Homo sapiens: one gene and its partners. The protein of the gene in region 3 purifies or fractionates together with the protein of the main gene of each other region. This does not show direct contact. Each region holds a gene or a part of one and is shown on either strand. Other genes may lie near its edges. The genes, in order: TLN2, SPCS2, RAC2, AKAP1, DDX50, CLCC1 and ELMO2.

Region 1 (3,500 bases), on a different chromosome or scaffold from region 3:
AAAAGCTTTTCCTGCCTCTCCCTGCTTTAGCAGATTATTTTCATTGTGTGTGAATGTCAACCCTGCTTCCTAATGTTTGTTTCTATTCAGATGTGCAAAGGAAGCAGGTTCAGGTTCAGGGTGACAGTCCTACAGAGCCTTTGTTAGCAGGGACAGGCCAGACTTGAATGTTTTCAATTGTTTAGCTCTCTAGGTAAAGACCAGGGCAGTAAGGTGATCCTGCAACCTCCTCCAGTTATGGGTAACTGACATTGGATTTCTTACTCTATTCTTCTGATTCTTGAGATCATATCTCAGAGCTTTTCTTGATTTCTTAATGTACTGCATGTTCCCATAGTTAACAAAGATTTATTTTACACTGGCTATATAATAGTGGTCTTGTTGAAAATTTTGACAAAGGCCTTGTCAGCAGCTATAGCTGTAGTATCACATTCTTTTTCTGACTGTATTTTTTTGGACAAAATTAATAAGAGGAACAGGATTTCTTTAAACAATTCTAACAAAGTCCTTTAGAACAATCATGATTCTATGTGACCAAATCCTGGCCCCCCATCTGAAAAGATGAATTCATATCAAGTGAGGGAATACTATGACCTACTTTGGAAAGTTATTTTTAAAAATCTTTTTAATAATTTGTGACATTCAAGCTGTGTTTTCACTGAGCATTGAGATAGATGTCCAGGAATTGTAACTTTGCCATAGTGGGAGCAATTCCTAAAAGTTGTGTGGTAGACAAGTGCCAGTCAGATCCCAAAGGGATCTTCTGCTTTCAGCACCATGGGCTTTAATTATACCTTGGATAGCCAGGAAACATCACAGACCTGAGAAAGACTGGAATAACCTGCTCCTTTAAGACCACTTAGTTTTTGTCCATTTTAAAATCAGCTTACTTGATAGATTCATGGGTTTCTGGTTTAGCTGGATTGTATCTAGTCTTTGTTCTATGTAAAATTGTGCAGGCTGAATATTATTTCCAATGTATCTTCTCATAAAATATCTCACTGTAAAGACGCTGTGGGTGCCCTTTACATTTAGAATCAAATGTGCTCTTTATCATCTGATGAATTAATAAAGACTTCTGACCGTATTTCCTTGAAGGGAAAAGCCTTGACGTGTTTGTTCCAAATAAAAATGGCTCATATGTTTGGGAAGGCATTTCCAAGTCAAATAAACTACTTTCAGTATTAAAAGCAAAGAAGTAAATTAATTGTAACCATGGTTCTTCTTCAGGTCAGACAGATGGGTGACAAATCTGGTAGGCTCAATCAAAGGATTCTTCTTTCTGCAGGCAGAATGCCTAGTCATTGAGTTGAAGCATAAACTAGCTCCTCGCATTTTCAGTCAGACCATCTTATAGCTAGTGTATTTATATAGGCTCTCTTTCTGCTTTCTGTAATAATTTAATTCCTACCCAGAAGGCTGCAGAACACTGAGAATAACTCATGTTCAGAGCATTTCTTGGCTCTTGAGCTATAGGTATTGGTGCCAGCTATGTGTCTGTGCACATCAAATGTTGCCCTCTGGAGGTAGAGATATGGCTAAATTTCTGATGACGACTTGGATCTTTGTGCAAAGTAGAAATCCAAAAGATACATTTTCAAGTTGCAGTGGGGCATGATGACTGGAGGCCATGAATTATAACCTTCTTATGGCACATGATGTTGTGGCATCTGGATATGTTTTCAGCTTCTCCTGATCTACCATATCAGCCACTCATTCAAGAGACGTGGTCAAGACTTCGTGTTAGATAAGTGCATGAATGGGAATCAGTGGTTAAAATAATGACCCTTCCCTCAAATTAACTATTTTAGATTTAAACCTATGCTACTTAATGGATGTAAGAGACTGAGTTATTAGGATACAAGTCTCCTTTTTTAATTACTTCTAAGGATAAGTTGACATTTCAAAAAAAAGTAAAAAAACTTCTAAAGTACTGAAGGAAAAAGATCAAATGGAATTTTAATAACGTTTATTTTCAGGCTGTGAAAGGTGATTAGAGAAAAATAAATGAATAGTCTTTGATTCCCTTTTCTTAGGATGTTTTAATGAGTTTGGCCAAAGCTGTTGCCAATGCAGCTGCCATGTTGGTACTAAAGGCAAAGAATGTTGCCCAAGTGGCCGAAGACACTGTCCTACAGAACAGGGTAATTGCTGCTGCCACCCAGTGTGCCCTCTCCACCTCCCAGCTTGTGGCATGTGCCAAGGTAAGCCAGCTGGCACCCCAGCCCTTTCTACCCAGTATCACCTGCTGTTACCTGCCTCCAGGCATTTGGTGTGTAGCAGGGGCAGAATTTGTTTAAATAGTCCGAGATTTAGAGCTTCCTTAAAGTGTCTTAAGTGATGATAGGATTTTAGCATAAGCGGTCAAATTCTGCTTTTATCATTTGTTCTTTGCCCAAGTCCTCAGGCCGTTGGTACTTTTCACTAGTTCATTTCTATATGCAAATTGCTGTGTCTCCCCTTTGGACTTCTCAGTGCATCTTTACACCTGCACAAAAATAGTTCTTGCAATGCGTGGTACAGCATTACAAATGGGTTCAGAAATAATCCACAGAGTTTATGGGAACCCTTTCTAGGCTGCACAGGGTCCGAGTGGGGATTTTAATTGTTGCCAGGGTATACACACTCAGTGTGTCATACATCACCTCATTACATCTCCCCGGTAATCCTGCAAATTAAGCACCATTATCTCTAGTTTACTGATGAGGAATCTGAGGCCCTTAGATGTCAGTAGGTTAAGGCCACAGAAGTAGTAAGTGGCAGAACTAGAGTTACAACTCAAGTCCATCTGCCTCCAAATACGCTTTCCCCTCTACTTCATGTGTCCTCTCGGTGATGATGCAGCAGAAGATGGGAAATGTCCGTTTCTGGAATTGATGGCCTGTCATGTTGTATAGATCTGTGATCTGGCTCAGCTTGGCATCAATAGCCTGTGGTAAGATTTGCAGCATCGTCTCCCTCAAGCTTTCATTGTCCACGCTGCTAGAATTTACAAGGAACTGACAGAACCCCCCTGTTCTTTAAAGGACTATGAGGCAGAGTTTCAGGTGTTTCTGGGAATAGAAATAGAATTCTTTTAGGTAGTCTTTGTATCCCAACTCAAAAGACTCAATTCAAAGGATCCTAAAATGAAGGAGGTATAATTGGGAAATCTCAGAAATTTCTCTGTATGGAAGTAGGGCAGTAGTATGGACTGTCACATGTGACTAATGAAGTTATAAATTAGTGGGACATGTCAAATCACAAGGATGAAGTAGAATAGCAGAGCGTGTGAGACTGAAGCAATGGTTTCATTGAATGAAATGGTCAGGTAAGTAAGAAACCGAGCAGTGGTCCTGTAAGTAAGAAACCGAGGCCCAGAGCAGGAAGGGCTTTGATGGGACTGCGGGGGCACATGGAGAGGGACCAGGATTCAACCACAGTGCCCAAAACCTGTTCCTGTCTCACTTCAGGTTGTGAGCCCCACTATTAGCTCCCCTGTGTGCCAGGAGCAGCTGATT
Region 2 (3,500 bases), on a different chromosome or scaffold from region 3:
ACTCAGGTCTTTTATATCACTGCATAACTTCTGTTTTCACTGTGATTAAAATAAGATAATTGAAGGTGTTCATGTGTCATACTCAAAACAATTTTGTTTTGCTGGACATATCCTAATGACCAAGGATTTTGTCCTTTTGTTTTTTGAGATGGATTCTCACTCTATTGTCCAGGCTGGAGTGCAGTGGCACAATCACGGCTCACTGCAGCCTATACCTCCTGAGCTCAAGCCATCTTCCTGCCTCTGTCTCCCAAGTAGCTGGGACTTTAGGTGGGCACCACCACACCTGGCTAATTTTTTAAATTACATTTTTTTGTAGATACGGAGGAGTCTTGCTATGTTGCCCAGGCTGATCTCAGACTCCTGAACTCAAGCGATCCTTCCACCTTGGCCTCCCAAAGTGCTGAAGTTATAAACATGTTGCCACTGTGCCTGGCTTATTTTGTCTCTTTTTTTGATCCCACCCTATCCCTTTGAGTGTGGTGAGATGCATGGGAACAGAAGGCTGTATTCCCTCAAATGAGTTAATTTGGAAAATGCCTTCCTGTACTGACTACATATCCTTCAGACCTGAGTTGTGTTTAATATCCTTCCTAAGCACTTATGGAGTTCCTGATGCCATACCTTCAGTGAAGTGTCTTTGTAGAATTTTTTATTATTCAAATGTGCAGTGGAGAAACGTAACTGAAATGATTCTTCATAATGTTCTATTAAAGCTATCAAATGCCTGTTTTCTTTGAACTGGTTAGCCAGCCAGCTCTGGCATCAGGTGTGTTAGTCTGACAAAAGTTGTCTTTATCTTGGCCGGGTGTGGTGGCACTTTGGGAGGCTGAGGTACGTGGATCACTTGAGGCCAGGAGTTCGAGACTAGCCTGGCCAACATGGTGAAACCCCATCTCTATTAAAAAATACAAAAATTAGCTGACTGTGATGACACTTGTCTGTAATCCCAGCTACTCGGGAGGCTGAGGCATGAGAATTGCTTGAACCCAGGAGGCGGAGGTTACAGTGAGCTGAGATCGCGCCACTGCGCTCAGCCTGGGTGACAGAGTAAGACTCTGTCTCAAAAAAAAGTTGTCTTTATCTCTTCAGTGGGTGGTGTAGGGGAGTAATTTCTTTAAGATAGTACTTTTTGAGCTCTGTTTTCAGCCAAATTGCAGTTGGTTTTACATTGGGGGGGGAGGTTCAACATTTTTGATACCCTGTGAGTTTTGTGGTCCTATTCAAGATTAACATCTTTTTTTTTTTTTTAGGTTTTTAAAATGTTATTACTAGAGCTTGTTAGGAATCAAGATACAATGTATAGCTGTCACTTCAGGGATCTCTTTGTTTCCTGTTCTTTGTGTTTTTGATGGCTAATAATTCCTTTCCTTGCACTTCATGGGAAAGCAGTGTAGAATAATGAGAGAGCATGGGTTTTGAGTCCTGGCTTTACCACTTTCTGCCTTTCACCTTTGGCAGGTTTTTTAAACCCTTAGTGTTATCTGTAAAAGGAGGATTTTAACTGTTCTTACCTTGTAGAGTTATTGTGGAAATTAAGTGAGATAGTGTATATAAAATACTTAGCACATCCGTAGCACATGTTAGGCATTCAGGAAATGGTAGCTATGATTATACCTTCTGTCTGCCCTCCATCCCTTAAAGAAATTCTGTGAATAAGAACCAAGTGAGATCATTTTGACCATGTTTACATTTGCTAAATTTAAACTGGAGAGTAACATTTTAGAGATCTTTTTCTTCCCTTTTTTTCTTTATAAGGATTTAGACATTAAAAAAAAAAAAAAGCTATTGAGAGTATATTGTGTTCCAGGCTCTGAGAATACAAAAGTGTATAGTCCCTGTGACCCAGTGAGGGAGACAATACATACAGTCAGGTAACCATGATGCAGTGTATTATATAGTTTTATATCATTAATAGCAACAGCAATAGCTAATTTTTATGAAGTACTTGCTAGGTACCAGGCACTGTGCACTGTGCTATGTTTTATAATTACACTATTTACTTCTCATACCAACCTGTGAAATAGATACTTTCACCATCTTAATTTTACAATTTAGCAAACTAATAAGGCTTTAGAGAGGTTAAATTATTTGCCCAGTGCCTTCCAGTATTAAGTGGAAAAGTGAGGATTAAAATAAAGTAGCCTGACTCCATTCTCCCTTGGATAATAAGGATTCACCTTATTGGGTAAGGAAAAAAAGCATTTGCCTACATACATTTGTATTTAGTCTAAATCCAGTCAGCTTGTTTTTTGTTGTTGTTGTTGTTTGTTTGTTTGTTTGTTTGTTTTTTGAGATGGAGTCTTCCTCTGTTCACCCAGGCTAGAGTGCAATGGCACCATCTCGGCTCACTGCAACCTCTGCCTCCTGGATTCAAGTGATCTCTTGCCTCAGCCTCCCAAGTAGCTGGGATTACTTAGCCTGGCTAAGTTTTGTACTTTTAGTAGAGATGGGGTTTCACAATGTTGGCCAGGCTGGTCTCGGACTCCTAACCTCAAATGATCCATCTGCCTCAGCCTCCCAAAGTGCTGGGATTATAGGTGTGAGCCACTGCACCTGACCAGAACCAATCAGCTTGTGATTTGAAGTACAGTACACCTTTAAGAATAAGGCCACAATCTGCTTTGGGATTGAGTTCAGGGATTAAGGCAAATAAAAATAAGTTTATATCACTGAAGAAGAGACAGTTTTATAATGAGCCATGTATTTGTAATTTAGCCCTAAAGAATTTTGTTGGCCTGTCATTTACTATTTGTATGGCACTTAACATCTTTGAACTCTAGTTTTCTAATCTGAAGGACATTGGTTTCTGGATTGAGGGTCTGCTTAGTGCTGCAATAAAAAGATGAGTGGCAATAGCAGTTTTACAGTGGGTGAAAATTGACCTGTGTAAGGGATATCATCTTGAAATTTTAGATACTGGCAACATAAAGAACTTTTTCTAGATTTCCAGAAGGAAAGGTGTTCAACATAAATCACATCATTTATACAAACAGTTGAGGCACAGTGAGCCATTCTTATCACTGAGGGAATGTATTTATATCAGTGTAGGGATTTGTTTTATCAGCCAGCTTGTCAGATACCAGCCAAGGGCCAACCTTGCAAACAAGCCTTGCTAAAGATGGCAGTCTTGGACCCAGGTTCACTTATTTCTGCACACTGCCCTTCTTTTTAATTTATCCTGTGAGGTCCCACATAAAAGAAACTAATTTTTGCTTTCTCTTTTTATTATTACAAAAGGAAAGCAATTTGCAATTAGTGTTGAGGAAGACAAAATTGAGGCAAAAAAAAAAAAAAGATAGCTTTTAAAATACCCGAATTAGTAGTAGAGAGAACATGAGGAGCAGCATACATTTTAGTTGATGAGCAGTTTTTGAGCATGATGAGAAGTAATAATCAGAAAAAGAAGCACCTAATAGCAACTCCCCTTCTTCCAGATGGTTCTCCATACTGTAGTAGAGACATTACTTGCTTCGAAATGGGCTGTGTTGCCGTAAAGT
Region 3 (2,500 bases):
GGCGTGGGAGGGGTGTATGGCGTGGGAGGAGTGTATGGCGTGGGAGGGGTGTATGGCGTGGGAGGGAGGGTGTATGGCGTGGGAGGGGTGTATGGCGTGGGAGGGTGTATGGCGTGGGAGGGGTATATGGCGTGGGAGGGGTGTATGGCGTGGGAGGGGTGTATGGCGTGGGAGGCGTGGGAGGGGTGTATGGCATGGGAGGGTGTATGGCGTGGGAGGGGTGTATGGCGTGGGAGGAGTGTATGGCGTGGGAGGGGTGTATGGCGTGGGAGGGAGGGTGTATGGCGTGGGAGGGGTGTATGGCGTGGGAGGGGTGTATGGCACGGGAGGGTGTATGGCGTGGGAGGGGTGTATGGCGTGGGAGGGGTGTATGGCGTGGAAGGGGTTGTATGGCATAGGAGACATGTTGGCCCAGAACCCCCCCCGCCACTTAGGCCTTGGCTCTCCTGTCCATCTCCCCAACCAGACTCGGTGAAATACCTGGAGTGCTCAGCTCTCACCCAGAGAGGCCTGAAAACCGTGTTCGACGAGGCCATCCGGGCCGTGCTGTGCCCTCAGCCCACGCGGCAGCAGAAGCGCGCCTGCAGCCTCCTCTAGGGGTAAGAGTCCCCCACTCTAGTGCCCAACTCCCATACACAGCAGGCCCTGGCTGAGCAGTGGCCTTTGGTTCACTGTGAGTGGCATTTAGGCCAGGACAGAAAGAAGGTGGGTATGGAGGTTGCCTCAGTTTCCGCAGCCTACTTGTCATCTGCCTGGGCCAGTCTCACTCTCTGGAGCTCATCTTCCAGAGGCAAGGCCCAAGGTATGAATGAATGCCTGGTAACCCCCCACCCCCGGGCCAGGGAGTGGGTGTCACGGAGCCCCACTCTGCCCATTCCTGCAGGAGGTGATGGAAAAGATGCCTTGGTCCCTGGCCCTAGGAGAGCCCAGTCGAGCCAGGGAGATCCTGCACCCACATATGTGGGTGGAGGTGGGAGAGCCTGAGCTATGATCCCCAGGGGGCAGATGGTGGGGTCAGTGAGTTGGAGGCAGCCCACAAGGCCTCCTGGAGGTGTGGGACCAGAAGGACAGAGAGGACTGGTGAGGTGGGGAGAGCAGCATTGGCAGTCCTGGTGGGAGTCAAACCTTGAGCAAAGACCTGGAGGTGGGAATGAGCTGTGAGCCAGGAAGGCGAGAGCTGTGGATTCTGCATGTCCCCAAATTCTCTTTCCCTGCTTATCTTCCTTCCAGGTTGCACCCCAGCGCTCCCACCTAGATGGGTCTGATCCTCCAGGATCCCCACCCAAAGCCTGATGGCACCCCGGCTGGCCATGCTGTCCCCTCCCTGTGGCGTTTCTTAGCAGATGGCTGCAGAGCTTCGTTGATGGTCTTTTCTGTACTGGAGGCCTCCTGAGGCCAGGAACGTGCAAATTTGCAGGTGCTGCATCCCAAGCCCCTCATGCTCCTGCCTTCCTGAGGGCCAGAGGGGAGCCCCAGGACCCATTAAGCCACCCCCGTGTTCCTGCCGTCAGTGCCAACTGCCGCATGTGGAAGCATCTACCCGTTCACTCCAGTCCCACCCCACGCCTGACTCCCCTCTGGAAACTGCAGGCCAGATGGTTGCTGCCACAACTTGTGTACCTTCAGGGATGGGGCTCTTACTCCCTCCTGAGGCCAGCTGCTCTAATATCGATGGTCCTGCTTGCCAGAGAGTTCCTCTACCCAGCAAAAATGAGTGTCTCAGAAGTGTGCTCCTCTGGCCTCAGTTCTCCTCTTTTGGAACAACATAAAACAAATTTAATTTTCTACGCCTCTGGGGATATCTGCTCAGCCAATGGAAAATCTGGGTTCAACCAGCCCCTGCCATTTCTTAAGACTTTCTGCTGCACTCACAGGATCCTGAGCTGCACTTACCTGTGAGAGTCTTCAAACTTTTAAACCTTGCCAGTCAGGACTTTTGCTATTGCAAATAGAAAACCCAACTCAACCTGCTTAAGCAGAAAATAAATTTATTGATTCAAGTTTGGAGATATCGTGATTTCAGGTGCAGCTTGATCAAGGTATTCAAATGATGTCATCGAGGCTTGTTTAGCTCTGGGCTCTGCCTTCTGCTGGCTGGTTCATTCTCAGGCAGGCGACTTAGGGCTTCATCCTCCCAAGTTCAAGTTCAGGGTTTCATCCTTCCAAGTTCAAGTTCAGGGCCTCATCCTTCCAAGTTCAAGTTCAGCCAAAAAGAGCAAATGTCTATCCCAGGCAAAGTTCTAACTAAGATTTACTGTGATTGGACCAGCTTAGGTCCTGGGCCCCCTTTTAACCAATCATATTTGTCAGAGTGGTGCAGTGCTGTGCTCTGACTGGCCAGGCATGGACCATATGCCATGCTGGAACAGAACTGCGGCAACCCCAGCGAAAGCGTGTGTACTGGGGGGGAGGGTGAGTTCCAAAGTGGGCTGAGAGCCTGGCGGGAATTTGGGAATTTGGGCGAGAAACCCTCAACCTCCACTACTGGAGGTCATGGGAA
Region 4 (3,500 bases), on a different chromosome or scaffold from region 3:
GGCCTCTGCTGGTCGGTTCTGCTATGGGACTGTGTTCTGGGGACAGGGCTTAGGTGGTGATAGCGCTGGCAGGAAACCAGAGGCCTCTTGGTCCCCACATGGGAGGACTACTTTTCCTGGCTCTCCCCCTGGGCACCTTTTAAGTTTTCTAGGCGTTTGCTTAGAAAGGATGGTGTAGTTCGGACAGGAGATTGGGTGTGTCCAGGGTCGCCGTTCACCACCTGAGACCTGGGTGGGACTAGAATCATGGGTTTGGATGGCGCTTGTTCTTTCTTCTGGTTGAGTCAGGCCTTAACAGTGGCCCTGGTGAAGGATCTCCTTCCCCTTCCCCTCCCCAGGAGGTGCCTAAATTACAAAGAAGAATGAATACTCCCCACCAGGCCCGGAAGTCCAGTGACTCTTGGGAGGTTGCCCCAGGAGTTTGGCAGAGGGAAGAGCTGCTATCTCCAGGGCCCCTGTGTGCTGCTGACTGCAGGGTCTCTCAGGGCCGTGGCCCATATCCTGCCGTGTGCCTCTGGCCCTGGTTGGGTCTTATCTCACTGGGAGTAGAATTGCAGAATTCTGTGGGCCAACGACTGTTGACTACGTTTTACACAGATGGACAGATGGGCTGACTATAGCTCCAAGGAAATTGTCCTCCTTCGTGTTTTTTTTTTGTTTTTTTGTTTTTTTATGGATGGTAGGCATTTCAGTTTTGTGTCTTCCCCTTTGCAAAGGCCCTTGGGCTGGAGGGAAAGGATTGGGATATCTTTTTCCTGTGGATATGTGAGAGTAGGCTGAATACCACTTTATGCTTTACTCCTGAATCAAGAGTTTTTTCCCAGGAGGCTCGGTCGTAGACTCACTCTCTTTTTTTTTTTTTTTTTTTTTTTTTTGAGACAGAGTCTCACTCTGTTGCCCAGTCTGGAGTGTAGTGGCATGATCTTGGCTCACTGCAACCTCTGCCCACCAGGTTCAAACGATTATCCTGCCCCAGCCTCCTGAGTAGCTGGGATTACAGGTGTGCTCCACCATGCCCAGCTAATTTGTATGTTTTTAGTAGAGATGGGATTTCACCATGTTTGCCAGGCTGGTCTTGAACTCCTGACCTCAGGAGGGTAAGCAGTAGGAGGGAGAGCAAATAGGAAGCAGACTCTGCTAGACCTTGACCATGGACCTGACCTGAGGCCACTGCTTGCTCTTGGGAGGGCAGCGTAGATGCTGTCAGACCATAGGCTCCTGGGGTTGTCTGCCAGTCCACAGGAGTTGGCTAAAGGGCCTGGGGCCTGCCTACTGCTTATTTTCAGGAGTCTTGTTCTCAGCGGCCACCTCATTCCTGTGTTGCCCTCCCTGGGTCTTATAGATTCATCAACAGAAGTGGGAGGGAGGGCACTGCTGGTAGGTGGACCCTGCCCAGGCCTGTGCAAGGCCCAGCACTACCTCCGCAGTTGCTTCTTGGTTGCCCAGTGTCTGTGGGACCCTCCCTGCCTGGCCCTGAGGTGAGACTGCCCCTAATGGCTGCTCGTGGTATTGCAGGACAACAGCCACAGGGGTGTCGAACACTTTCTGTTGTTAAAGTAGTCCTTCAACCTCTACCTTCTGGGTGCCATGTTGTCTTGAGTTGCCCTTTTCAAAGATATGCTAGCCCAGAGACTTGCCCTTGGGTCTCGGGACTTATTCAAAGATGAGATAAGAAGGATTGTTTCAGTGACCGCTCCCCCTTCCCCTCTACAGCTCATGCTGCCTGATGGCATCACCGTGGAGGTCATTGTGGTCAACCAGGTCAATGCCGGGCACCTGTTCGTGCAGCAGCACACACACCCTACCTTCCACGCGCTGCGCAGCCTCGACCAGCAGATGTACCTCTGTTACTCTCAGCCTGGAATCCCCACCTTGCCCACCCCAGTGGAAAGTAAGCAGTGCCCTGAGGGGTCGGGAAGGGGGACCCCTGGGGTTGCCTGTTCTGCCCTGGATCCTGATCAGGAGGAGGCTGTTCTGCGATCCTTCATGGAAGCAGCATCCTTCAATTCTTGCCATTGTTATGGAGCTGGGGTGGGTTTCCTGGCAAGGCAGAGCTGGGGTTTCCACTGGCTGGCAGAGTGATGGGTGTTGGAGTAGAGTTTTGACACAGGGATTCAGATCCCAGCTCTGCCACTAATTTTTTTTTTTAATTTTTTCTTTTTTTTTTCCCTCAAAGCCAGTGTCATAGTATCTGCCACCTATTTATTATCTGTTAAAGGGGGTGATACCCACTTGTTCCAGGAATTAGTGTTGAATACTGTATGTATTACATATAAAGCACTTATGCATATAATGGTTACCACAAAAAAATCCCCAAGTCCAACAAGCCTGTGCAGCGTGTTGGGTCATCTCCATTTAACAGATGAGAAAACTGGGCCTCAGGTGACTTGCCCAAGTGAGCAGGATCTGGGGTCTGAGCCCAGCCTTTGTCATTATTATCTTTGTTGTCCTTATCACAGAGGATGGAATGTCAGAACATCACCCATTCCTCACCAGGGGATGGCAGGGTCACTCAGTGCAGTAGAAAACCTTCTGAAGTGATCTCTGTAGCCTTTTGTGTGGATTTTTTCCTTTTGGAAGGATAAGGACTTAGTTTTCATTGGCTTCTCTAAAGTTGCCTTAACCCAGCAGTAAAGACTGAACTGGAGCCTGAGGGGTAACTGCCAGGGGTTCTCTCCAAGGGTCAGGACCCAGCACAGTCAGCCTCATGTCACAGGTCCTCATCCTGGCCAGCGTGGGCAGCTGTTGGGGTGCTGCTGGGAACGTTTACCTCCTGGTCTCGTCTGCCTCTGACCCACAGTGGGTTAGTGACTCCTTGATCCTGGGTGGCTGCCCAGGTGCTGTCAGCACCTTCCAGAGGCAAAGGCTAGAAGAAGGGGGTTTAGGCCCAGGAGGCCCCTTCTGGTCAAGCTCTCCAGCTGAGTTGTGGGCTGGAGCACACCCTAGGTATGAGGATGCTGAGATCTGCTGCACTTGATTTCTTCAGGGACTTTCTTTTAAATGTAAGGCTGGCCCTGGCCCCCATTCCCCGAGTGCTATATTTACTTGGTTTATTCCTATTCATCTGTGTCCCTCTTGGGTCCCAGAAGTTTTGGAGTAATGGATCTAGACTGAATGCTTCTCAGTCTGGATGGCCTCGGGGGCGGCACACTTGCTAGGCTGAACTTCTCACATCCAGGTTTTTCCCTCGGCTGGTCTTGGGCTTGGGGGAGGCTTTGCTTGGGGCCGGTTGCTGTTCCTGTCCCCTGCACTGTGGAGGTTGCAGGCCTCTGAGAGGTAACGCAGGGAGGTGGGTAGTGGCCAGGTGGCCCTTGGTGCCCTGCCCTGGCCCAGGCGTTCCACGCACTCTGCTCCCTACCCTGCAGTAACGGTCATCTGTGCCGCCCCTGGTGCGGACGGGGCCTGGTGGCGAGCCCAAGTGGTTGCCTCCTACGAGGAGACCAACGAAGTGGAGATTCGATACGTGGACTACGGCGGATATAAGAGGGTGAAAGTAGACG
Region 5 (3,500 bases), on a different chromosome or scaffold from region 3:
GAAATACAGATTTAAAGGACCTTATTTAGATCAACAAACACATGTGCTTCCTGCCAAACAGCAAATTCACAAATTAAAAAAAAAAAGGCCATAACACAAGGATTCAACACTTTTCCCCAAAGATTATGCATTAAGCTCAAATGTATATGAATATCAGCAATTATCGTATTTATATAATATAAAGAATTACTAATTATCAGCCCAGTGTGGTGGCTCATGCCTGTAATCCCAGCAATTTGGGAAGCCGAGACAGGTGGATCACTTTGAGGTCAGGAGTTCAAGACCAGCCTGATCAACATGGAGAAACACCGTCTCTACTAAAAATACAAAAATTTGCCAGGCATGGTGGTGCGTGCCCGTAATCCCAGCTACTTGAGAGGCTGACTCAGGAGAATCGCTTCAACCCGGGAGGCAGAGGTTGCCATGAGCTGAGATTGTGCCATTCCAGTCCAGCCTGAGAAACAGAGAGAGACTCTGACTCAAAAAAAAAAAAAAAAGAAAAAAGAAAAGAAATTCAAGTAGATAACCATCAAGCAATTCCGAATAACTTTAGGAACCCAAATGTACAGAAAAGGTTTAAATTTAACTATTGCTCCCACCTCGCCCCAAGAAAAAGGCCATACAGTGAAATAAACAAGGGCCAAAGGAAAAAAGGCTCAGGCTTCACCTGTACAGACTCTAGTGCAACTAAGAATACTAGACACTAATCAAGAAATGTTATAGAATCAATTCTAATTAGCCTAAAAAAATTCAAATCAACCTATAGTTCAACAACAATGTCAAATGCAAAATAAAAAGCTTCCATACCTCCTCTAGTTTATTATCACTTGATTTATGAGTAGAAGTATCTAAAGATGATACTCGCTTTGATTTTTTTTCATATTCATCTATATCTCCATTTGGTAGATCTTTTCTTCTTGACTTATGAGATTTGGAGAATTCATCTGAAAGTCTATTAAATCCTTCTTCAGTGTCTCCATTTAGCTTCTCTTTCATTTTAGATTTTTTGGCCTTGGGAGCATCCAGGTCATCTGTAACACCATTTTCTCTTGTTTCTGATTTCTCATCCGAGTCATAATGGTGCCTTGACTTCCTTCTGTCACTCTGTGAACAAACAAAGAAGCAATGACAAGATGGTCAGAGGTTTTCTTTTAAGACTCTAGAGAAGTTAGAGCATGACTCCCCCACCAGTTCAGCTCAATCTACAGTTACTTTGAAAACCTGCCTGGTAGAAATCCAGACTGCTTACTAATGCCAAGCTCTAAGCCTCAACTGTTGCTATCTTTCTCATCCCCTTCCTAGCATTCTCAAGACTCAGCCTCTAGCCCCTCTCTAATCCCATCATAAGATTTAAGGAAAATTAAAACGGTTTCTCCTCAGGGAAAGAAAGACAACCCCAGAATTATAAATTACTAAACAAGCAAAAACTTCCAACATTTCCAAGAGAAAAAAAAATTAATACTTATTGAATACCTACCCAGCACTGTGTAATGTGTTTTCAGCTTATCTTGTTTAAATCTTCATAACAACCCTATAAGGGAAGTACAGGTCCATAATCCCTTATCCGAAATTGCGATATCCATAAAGCTCTGAAAACCGAAAGTTTTTTTTGTAACTTATTTGGAGGCAAAACCTTACCTGAACTCATTTGATGGCAAAATTTAACTTGAACTAACGTGAGGCTCTTTATAGTCTTCATTTATCCTGCTTAGTATGACCACTCATATTTAATATTAAGGTGTTTGATTACAGGTTTCAGGCCCCAAACCCTACCGGGGTGCTACCTTTCTAAAAATCCCCAGAATTCTGAATTCCAAAATACAACTAGTTCCAAGGATTTTGGATAAGGGATAGTGAACCTGTATTACCTTTGCCATTTTATTTAATTATTTATTTATTTTTGAGATAGAGTTTTGCTCTGTCACCCAGGCTGGAGTGCAGTGGCGCAATCTTGGCTCACTACAGCCTCCGCCTCCCGGGTTCAAGTGATTCTCCTGCCTCAGTCTTCCAAGTAGCTGGGACTACAGGCATACGCCACCATGCCCAGCTAAATTTTTGTATTTTTAGTAGAAACGAGGTTTCACCCTGTTGGCCAGACTGGTCTCAAACTCCTGACCTCAGGTGATCCACCAGCCTCGGCCTCCCAAAGTGGTGGGATTACAGGCGTGAGCCACTGTGCCCAGCCACCTTTGCCATTTTATAGACAAGGAAACAGAAGTTGTAAGAGGTTAAGCAACTTGCCAAAGATCCACATGTGGGATTTCCTGCAGCTATAAGTACTAGAAACTGAATCTAGCACTGCCTGACTTGAAAGCCCATTCTCTTTTCACATTATGCTTCCTCCCTGCACTTTGACAATTCACAGGCTAAAGGAAAACAAAAAGAAACTATATAATTCATATAGAAGTCCAATTGTTATACTTCCACGGAAGGACAGTAATCCTGGATTTTTTTTTTTTTTTTACGTTTTAAATTCAGTTAATTTTTTTAAAAAACACTATTTTTCAACTTCAATTTTAAAATCTCAAACTAGTGGCCAGTGTTGTGATATTTACAGAACACAATAAATGATTTGGGAATTTAGGACTTTAGCCTGGTGGCTAGCCGTGGTGGTTCACGCCTATAATCCCAGCACTCTGGGGGGGCGAGGTTGGGCGGATCACCTGAGGTCAGGAGTTCAAGACCAGCCTGGCCAACATGGGGAAACCCCGTCTCTACAAAAATACAAAAGTTAGCTGCATGTTGTGGTACACGCCTGTAATCTCGGCCACTCTCAAAAAAATGAATTACCTGGTCAAATATTCAAAATAGATAGCAGTAATTAGTGATAGTAAAAACTACTACCACCAAAATGTTCACCATAACTTACACAACTTTTAGAGTTATTTCACATATAATTTTCTCATCCATAAAATTGGAATTGCTGTGAGAATTGAACAATATGTGTGAAAATGCTTTGCAGTTACACATTACATCATATGATCTGCAGTTAACTACACTAGACCACATCTTTCCAAACCAATAGGTTCTACAGAAAAATAAGATTATTTATCGATTCAGCCTTGGGGCTTGAATTGCTTCTGGGCCCTGCACTACAGAGAGAAGTTGAAGCAAGGCAAAAGGAGACCTCTCGGTCTAAGCCCAGTAACATCTCAAGGTGATTAAATAAATAATTCCACTTTAGACCCACAATGCTTGGCACTCTCCGTCTACTTGGTTTCAGTTACACTTTATATTCCCTTCTTACCTCTATCTTCTTACCTCTACCACATATCTTCTTCAATGGTTCCTCTCCTTCCTCCTCCAGTGGATGCTCCTTGAGTATCTGTTCTCTATGTTCACTTTTAGTACTATTTTCATGGCTCAATACGTACTTCCAGACTCCCTTCCTCACCTACATTCCAACTCTAAGAATCTAAGCACCAGCTCCATATCTCAACACGTCCGAACCAAAGTTATCCTCACCTCAATACCAGACCACTATTCACTTCAGTTTTGTT
Region 6 (3,500 bases), on a different chromosome or scaffold from region 3:
AATACAAAAAATTAGCCGGGCGTGGTGGCGGGCGCCTGTAGTCCCAGCTACTCGGGAGGCTGAGGCAGGAGAACGGGGTGAACCTGGGAGGCGGAGCTTGCAGTGAGCCGAGATCGCACCACTGTACTCCAGCCTGGGCGACAGAGCAAGATTCCGTCTCAAAAAAAAAAAAAAATTATACATATATGTATATTTATATATCTATCTATATATATTTATATTTATATATCTGTCTATATTTATATATTTATTATATATAATATATATTTATATATTATATATTTATATTTATATATATATATGCACTGTCAGTATTTAGCAAGATTTATATTAAATCTTAGTATTAATATTAGTAATACTGGTTAGTATTAAATATTAGCACTGTCAATATTTAGCAAGATTTACAGAAAAAAAGGCAATGCTAAAATTATTGGGCTTCTTTGATGTTGTAAATCAGGCTAAGTCACGCTTAATGAGAAGGCGATTTTTAAGTGATACAGATTTTTTTCCTCCCCTCTGCCCCTCTAAATGATACAGACATATTATACTTACTTGTATATTTTTATAATCAAGAAAGTAGTTCTCTAGTTTGATTGCATATGTCATAGCAGTGATTTAGAATAATAACCTCTTTTTAAATGTGTTAACCTTGGTAAATTAATACACAGGAAATAGGAAGTTGATTTCTGTCTCCCAGAAAGGGGGACTTCTTATTTCTAGTCAGTTTTTGCAGCAGTGAGAAGGGTAGAGCATTGAGTTTGACACAGAACCAGAAAGGGATGTGGAAGAACATGGGTATGCTGAGAAAGAGTTTGGGGATCCAGGAGCAGACATTAAGAAGAAATATTACTCGTCATCCCTCCATGGTCTATTCAGTGTTTTTTGTTATCGATTTTTTAGCTATTACCCAAGTAAAGCAGTTGTCGCATAAAACAAAAAGAACTCAGATGTGCCAAGGGAAATTCTCTTCCCTAAGGATACAAGATTCACTATCTCTGTTCACTTTGAAATCGTTTCTTTTTTGGTTTTGTTTTTTGGCTTGTGATTACAGGATTATGTGGTTGACGGGTATTTTTTTGTTAGGTGACATTAGTTCTATAGTCATAGTTTAGTCTCTGAAACTGAAATTATCAGCAGAGTCTTCACCATCTGTTTTTGTTTCATGTGCTCCCTCAGGAAAGTTATGCTCTTTGACTTTTGCTGCTTTTGTCTTCAAATAGTAGTGTTTGAAAAACTAGTACAGAAATTTTCAAAGTTTCTGTTCTCAGGACCTCTTTGCAGTCTTAAAAATTGAAGCCCACAAACAGCTCTTACTTAAGGTGATTATATTTATTGATACTTACATATTAGGAGTTAAAACAAATTTAAAACATACGAGTACTGTACACGCAAGCATGCATCCCCTGAGTCTGAGTGAGGCTGTCACTCTAGCATCTGGAATGCTCCGTTGTATATTCAGGAGGGGACAGTGAAAAAGACAAATAATAATGTCTTTGTATTATGAAAAGTTTTGATCTCATAGATCTCCTGAAAGTCTCAGGTATCCCCCGGGGGTCCCTGGGCCACACTGTAAGGAACTGCTGCCTACTTTTTCCCATGGAATGTGAATCAAAACCTGTTGAATTTTAGCTGTAACTTAAGCCTAGTTTATATTTGTAAAAAGAAAATGTACAGAAGATTGTTTACATAATGATATACAACTTTAAATATTTTCAGCATTTACCTTATATGATGGGCATGAATCTAGAAACATGAATAATTATCAGACTAGAACCTTCTAATTTAAATATCTAGGCTTCAGCCTGCCATTGTTATAGTTCAATCGAAATGTGTCTAGCTGATTAAAATGTCTACTGAAAGATTTATTAAGTTTTATTGGCCACTCTGGCCTTGTATTAATCTAAAGAGGTCTCTAATGAAAAAAAGTCAAATTAACATGTTTATGTCTATAAATGCCACAAGTAAGTTAAATTACATAACTTTGTTAGCACTCTGAATAAAATGCCTCATAACTTTTGTAAGTTAGCCATTGAGTCCTCAGGAAAATGTATTTCTTTTCCTTACAGAGTTTCTGCTATGGTGCTGGAAAATCAGTTCATGTGCTGAGACATATAGGCGGTCCTGAGAGCGAACCTCCCCAGGCACTTCGGCCACGGGATAGAAGACGGCAGGAGGAAATTGATTATAGACCTGATGGTGGAGCAGGTGATGCCGATTTCCATTATAGGGGCCAAATGGGCCCCACTGAGCAAGGCCCTTATGCCAAAACGTATGAGGGTAGAAGAGAGATTTTGAGAGAGAGAGATGTTGACTTGAGATTTCAGACTGGCAACAAGAGCCCTGAAGTGCTCCGGGCATTTGATGTACCAGACGCAGAGGCACGAGAGCATCCCACGGTGGTACCCAGTGTAAGTCAGCAACTCTTTTATTCTGCTGTCCCTTCATTACTGGTTCTAAATCCTTCTGGAAGAGGTCTGATTGTTTTTACTCTTTTACCCCTCACCCTTAATTATATCATGAGTGATACAGCCACTCACTCTCTCCCCTTTCTGGTCAAAAGTTAGTTCAGCTTCCTCAGAAGAAATAAAATTAGATTTAACTTTTATGTAAAATACAATTTAACAGTAGTTTGTTAGAGCAGATGGTAATTCATATGAACCTTCATGGGAAGCCAGCGTATGAGCATGACAGAAATTTCTATCTTTGAAGAGATCAGAGAGAAGGCATCACTGAAGGCCCGGAGCTCTAGGGAAGGTACAGTAGAGCCCTAAAGGATTAGCTGGATGGAAGAGTGGGCTGGGGCCAGGGATCAAAAACATTGCTTCCCCAAATCTTCAGTGTCATTGGCTGGCTAGACTATACTTTTTACCTGTAGAATGGTAAGAAGAAGTTTTTCACCATTATCAGTCTTTTAAAGGGACATTTCCATTTCTGTTTGAGAGAGGAATTTGTATTGTCATTTGAAATGTTTAAATTGCAGCTGTTAAACCTTTGAAACAGTTATGAGCATAATAGAATCTGGGAAATTATAGAATCCCTTCCCATAGTTTCATATAAAAATAAACATATCTACATGTATCTAGAAAGATGGACCAGGCGCGGCGGCTCACGCCTGTGATCCCAGCACTGGGAGGCCGAGGCAGGCGGATCACTGGAGGTCTGCAGTTCAAGACCAGCCTGGCCAACGTGGCAAAGCCCCATCTCTACTGAAAATACAAGAAAATTAGCCAGGCGTGATGTGGTATGCACCTGTAATCCCAGCTACTTGGGAGGCTGAGACAGGAGAATTGCTTGATTCCAGGGGGCGGAGGTTGCAGTGAGCCGAGATCGTGCCATTGCACTCCAGCCTGGGTGACAGAGTGAGACGTCGTCTCAAAAAAAAAAAAAAAAAAAAAAAAACAACTTAAGATGGTCCTTCCAGCTTTTATAGTTAGTAATTACCTGTCACCTATCTCAGAAGTCTTCCAGTGACTTCCTATCTCACTTGAGGGGAAAGCCAG
Region 7 (3,066 bases), on a different chromosome or scaffold from region 3:
CTGTCACACTCTGGATTGTTTATCTGTGAGCTGGGCTCTCCACATTACTCTTCAGCAGCAGCCATAGGTTGTCATTACAAAGATAAGGTCAACTAGGAATGAGTCATTTACCTGGGACTGGGAAAATTCTCCCCTTTTCAGTTTCTCTGTGGTCAGCTACCCAAGAGAACTTGACAGATCCTTCCTCCTAGGGGCTCCTGGTCACATGTTGTAATGGATCCAGTGTGGACTTTGAAGCCAGATGGAACTGGTCCTTCTGACAAGGGCCCTGTAGTTCCATCTGCAGCACTGGAAGATACTAGATATTAAATGAGTGATTGCATTTGAGACCCTATGTGCCTGGTGAGCTCTGAGAGCCATCACTGGGAACTAGAGGTGGGACTTCTGGCAGAGGAGACACTTGGGCAGGGCCTGAGCTGCCGCTAGTGGAATTTGGTTGAGAGGAAATGAAGAACAAGCAAGTGGGGAACCAGGTGAGCAACGGTGTGGAAAAAGGAAAATGGCAGCAGAGGAAGCAGGAAGAGTCAGGGAGCGGTGGGATCAGAAGGCTTCCTGGTCACCCCCTCTTAGCATGAGACCCACCAGTTCCATTTCTTTAGTATTTACTCTTTAATATGTATTGACTGGATTATTTTTAATTTTGTTTTCGGGGGGGCGGGGCACAAAATTGAGATCCCACAGTGACTTCTGTTTGTGTCTTGCTTCTTTTCACCTAATACATATTTCCCTTCTCTCGCTTCTGATTTTGGGTAACTTCAGGTAGATGATGCCCCAGTACTCAGATCTCATTTTGCTGTATTCGTTTATTGCATTTTTAGGTTCTCCTTCATATTATTGTAAGGAGTTGTAATATAAAACCCCTTATAAAAACCAGATCTCTTGAGAAAGTGAAGGATCACCTCCTAATTTATCTTTGCTATCATTCCAAATCAGTTTTGCCTATACTGATTAGTTCCAAAAGGAACTGTTGTGAGCCCCATCAGAAAAGAGACCTTGGCAGGATCTCCTGCTGACCAGGGGTCACGATGTGACATTTTGCAACTTGCTCCCCACAGTACTGCATCTGGATTGATGGCCTCAGTGCCCTTCTGGGGAAGGACATGTCCAGTGAGCTGACCAAGAGTGACCTGGACACCCTGCTGAGCATGGAGATGAAGCTGCGGCTCCTGGACCTGGAGAACATCCAGATTCCCGAAGCCCCACCCCCCATCCCCAAGGAGCCCAGCAGCTATGACTTTGTCTATCACTATGGCTGAGCCTGGAGCCAGAAACGACGGTACCCAGGAGAAGGGATTTTGGGCCCAGGAGAAACACTTACATTCTGGTGCCTTGTCTTTTGCTTGTACAGAATCTGTAGTGATTTTGGTGGCCAGTAAATGCCAGCCATTTCTCAAACCCACCTCGGACCACCCAGAGTTTCCTCTTGGTCCCTGTCTACTAAGAGTCATGAAGGCAGGGTGCTCTGCCCACTCCATCACCATGAAGCCTGGGATTGGGCCACGAGGAACAAACAGCAGATGCCCTTGCCTTCCAGTCCAAGAAACTGCTTCTTGAAATGGATTTAACAACAGCCACTCACCTTTTCCTCCTGAGCCTGCTCTCTGATCAGCTGGATCCCCACGTGAGCAACAGCTGGCCCAGGAAAGGCTGCCTGCAGAGGACAGGTGTGTTGGGCGTGTTGAGAGCCTTGAAGTGACTACCTGTATCTTAGATCTGAGTACAAGCCTGAGGCTTTTGCTTTTGTCTTTTTTGATGAGGGCTCACTCCAGCTTCATATGGTGCCAAGACGTTGCTGCTTCTGAGGTTGGCTCTAACATCTCTGGTCTTTAGAGCCACCAGATCTCTCTGGCCCATACAGATATCAGAGCAGACGGAAATTTCTCCCTGCAAGCGCTCAGTCTCATCCCAGCAAGTCAAAGACCTCCTGGCCAAGTCCTGCCCTCTTAAGTCTCCAGGAACGCTGCAGGGAAAACCCAGCTGAGGCCTGGGCCTAGACTGTGGTGAGGTCACTAGATTCTACTGCTCTTCCCCCACATTAATACCTTTTCCTTCCTCAGAGAGAAATCTCCCCTAACCTGAATTGCAGCCCCCTCCAGTTTGCTTTCCTTTGGCCTTCCAGACCCCAGGAAGTTGGCCTTCCCTTCCTAGTGCTATGGTTTCTGCCATTGGCCATGATTTCAGGGAGCTGGCTGAGGCCGGCTGAGGCCACACCTGTGCCAGTGGGGCTTCCCTGGTGCTGCAGCACTTGTAAACCACACACACAGCCTCTCTCCCTGGACATACGTTAGCACATTGGCATTCAGTATTGGTGGCCTGGCATGGTAGGTACTACCCAATGAAGAGTGTACTATATATTTTCATTACTATAGGCCATACTTATACAGACGTGTATATATATTTATATAAGATCTACCTATCTTAGGATGGAACCTTGGGGAAAAATAAAATTGAGGGGAAGTAAAAAGTATGTAACACTTCCAGTTGTGAGCCAAGATTGTAACCAGAGAGCAGCCAGGAGCTTCCTGTCAGTAACCATGTTTTCAATAAATACTCTTTCATGTACAAACTGTGGTTCCTGTTAACAGCTGTTTGTCTGTACTTGCCCCCTGCCCAATGGTGAAGATTTCACCTTGACAAGACTTGATCTCCATGTATCTGGGAGACTCTGGAGAGCTCCAGCTGGAGCCCTTAGTCACCTTCCAAGAGTCCCTTCCTCCTCATCATTCGCTCCTCCCACACATACACACACACAGACACACACCTGCTGGTTAAGAGTGTTCACAGATTGCTGCACTGGGACGAAGCGTTTTCTGCTCAACCCTGCTGGGTACAGCAAGGTAAGGCATACTGTACACCCCCATGAACACATCCTCCCTCTTCTCCCTGCCAGGGACACAGCCAGGGAACAGCTCGAGTACTTGTGCCTTACAAAGAAGACACGCTCTTTACCCTGTGTGTTGCCTGTGCATAGTGCCCAGCCTTCCAGCTGGTGTTTTAGGCTGTTGCTCCAAACCTTGGCCTTGGTAGCTGGGAGACTTAAATGAGGGTGGTGATGAAAATAGATCT

Evidence for each region.
Region 1: the proteins of RAC2 (region 3) and TLN2 purify together in Homo sapiens (affinity purification with mass spectrometry, with the first as the bait; one study listed by BioGRID). This does not show direct contact.
Region 2: the proteins of RAC2 (region 3) and SPCS2 purify together in Homo sapiens (affinity purification with mass spectrometry, with the first as the bait; one study listed by BioGRID). This does not show direct contact.
Region 4: the proteins of RAC2 (region 3) and AKAP1 purify together in Homo sapiens (affinity purification with mass spectrometry, with the first as the bait; one study listed by BioGRID). This does not show direct contact.
Region 5: the proteins of RAC2 (region 3) and DDX50 purify together in Homo sapiens (affinity purification with mass spectrometry, with the first as the bait; one study listed by BioGRID). This does not show direct contact.
Region 6: the proteins of RAC2 (region 3) and CLCC1 purify together in Homo sapiens (affinity purification with mass spectrometry, with the first as the bait; one study listed by BioGRID). This does not show direct contact.
Region 7: the proteins of RAC2 (region 3) and ELMO2 purify together in Homo sapiens (affinity purification with mass spectrometry; 2 studies listed by BioGRID and IntAct, with this or other methods). This does not show direct contact.

Annotation. Positions count from the first base shown.
Region 1 is NC_000015.10:62,705,050-62,708,549, forward strand, and holds part of TLN2 (talin-2), read left to right. Parts: intron 1-2,036; coding exon 2,037-2,204; intron 2,205-3,452; coding exon 3,453-3,500. UniProt on the Homo sapiens protein: As a major component of focal adhesion plaques that links integrin to the actin cytoskeleton, may play an important role in cell adhesion. Recruits PIP5K1C to focal adhesion plaques and strongly activates its kinase activity.
Region 2 is NC_000011.10:74,959,266-74,962,765, forward strand, and holds part of SPCS2 (signal peptidase complex subunit 2), read left to right. Parts: intron 1-3,500. UniProt on the Homo sapiens protein: Component of the signal peptidase complex (SPC) which catalyzes the cleavage of N-terminal signal sequences from nascent proteins as they are translocated into the lumen of the endoplasmic reticulum.
Region 3 is NC_000022.11:37,224,770-37,227,269, reverse strand, and holds the end of RAC2 (ras-related C3 botulinum toxin substrate 2), read left to right. Parts: intron 1-466; coding exon 467-597; 3' UTR 598-599; intron 600-1,230; 3' UTR 1,231-2,000; downstream 2,001-2,500. UniProt on the Homo sapiens protein: Plasma membrane-associated small GTPase which cycles between an active GTP-bound and inactive GDP-bound state.
Region 4 is NC_000017.11:57,112,746-57,116,245, forward strand, and holds part of AKAP1 (A-kinase anchor protein 1, mitochondrial precursor), read left to right. Parts: intron 1-1,713; coding exon 1,714-1,891; intron 1,892-3,365; coding exon 3,366-3,500.
Region 5 is NC_000010.11:68,904,315-68,907,814, reverse strand, and holds part of DDX50 (ATP-dependent RNA helicase DDX50), read right to left. Parts: intron 1,546-3,500; exon of another isoform or gene 1,478-1,545; intron 1,105-1,477; coding exon 808-1,104; intron 1-807. UniProt on the Homo sapiens protein: ATP-dependent RNA helicase that may play a role in various aspects of RNA metabolism including pre-mRNA splicing or ribosomal RNA production.
Region 6 is NC_000001.11:108,935,985-108,939,484, reverse strand, and holds part of CLCC1 (chloride channel CLIC-like protein 1 isoform 1 precursor), read left to right. Parts: intron 1-1,176; exon of another isoform or gene 1,177-1,319; intron 1,320-2,066; coding exon 2,067-2,408; intron 2,409-3,500. UniProt on the Homo sapiens protein: Anion-selective channel with Ca(2+)-dependent and voltage-independent gating. Permeable to small monovalent anions with selectivity for bromide > chloride > nitrate > fluoride.
Region 7 is NC_000020.11:46,365,550-46,368,615, reverse strand, and holds the end of ELMO2 (engulfment and cell motility protein 2), read left to right. Parts: intron 1-1,055; coding exon 1,056-1,256; 3' UTR 1,257-2,566; downstream 2,567-3,066. UniProt on the Homo sapiens protein: Involved in cytoskeletal rearrangements required for phagocytosis of apoptotic cells and cell motility. Acts in association with DOCK1 and CRK. Was initially proposed to be required in complex with DOCK1 to activate Rac Rho small GTPases.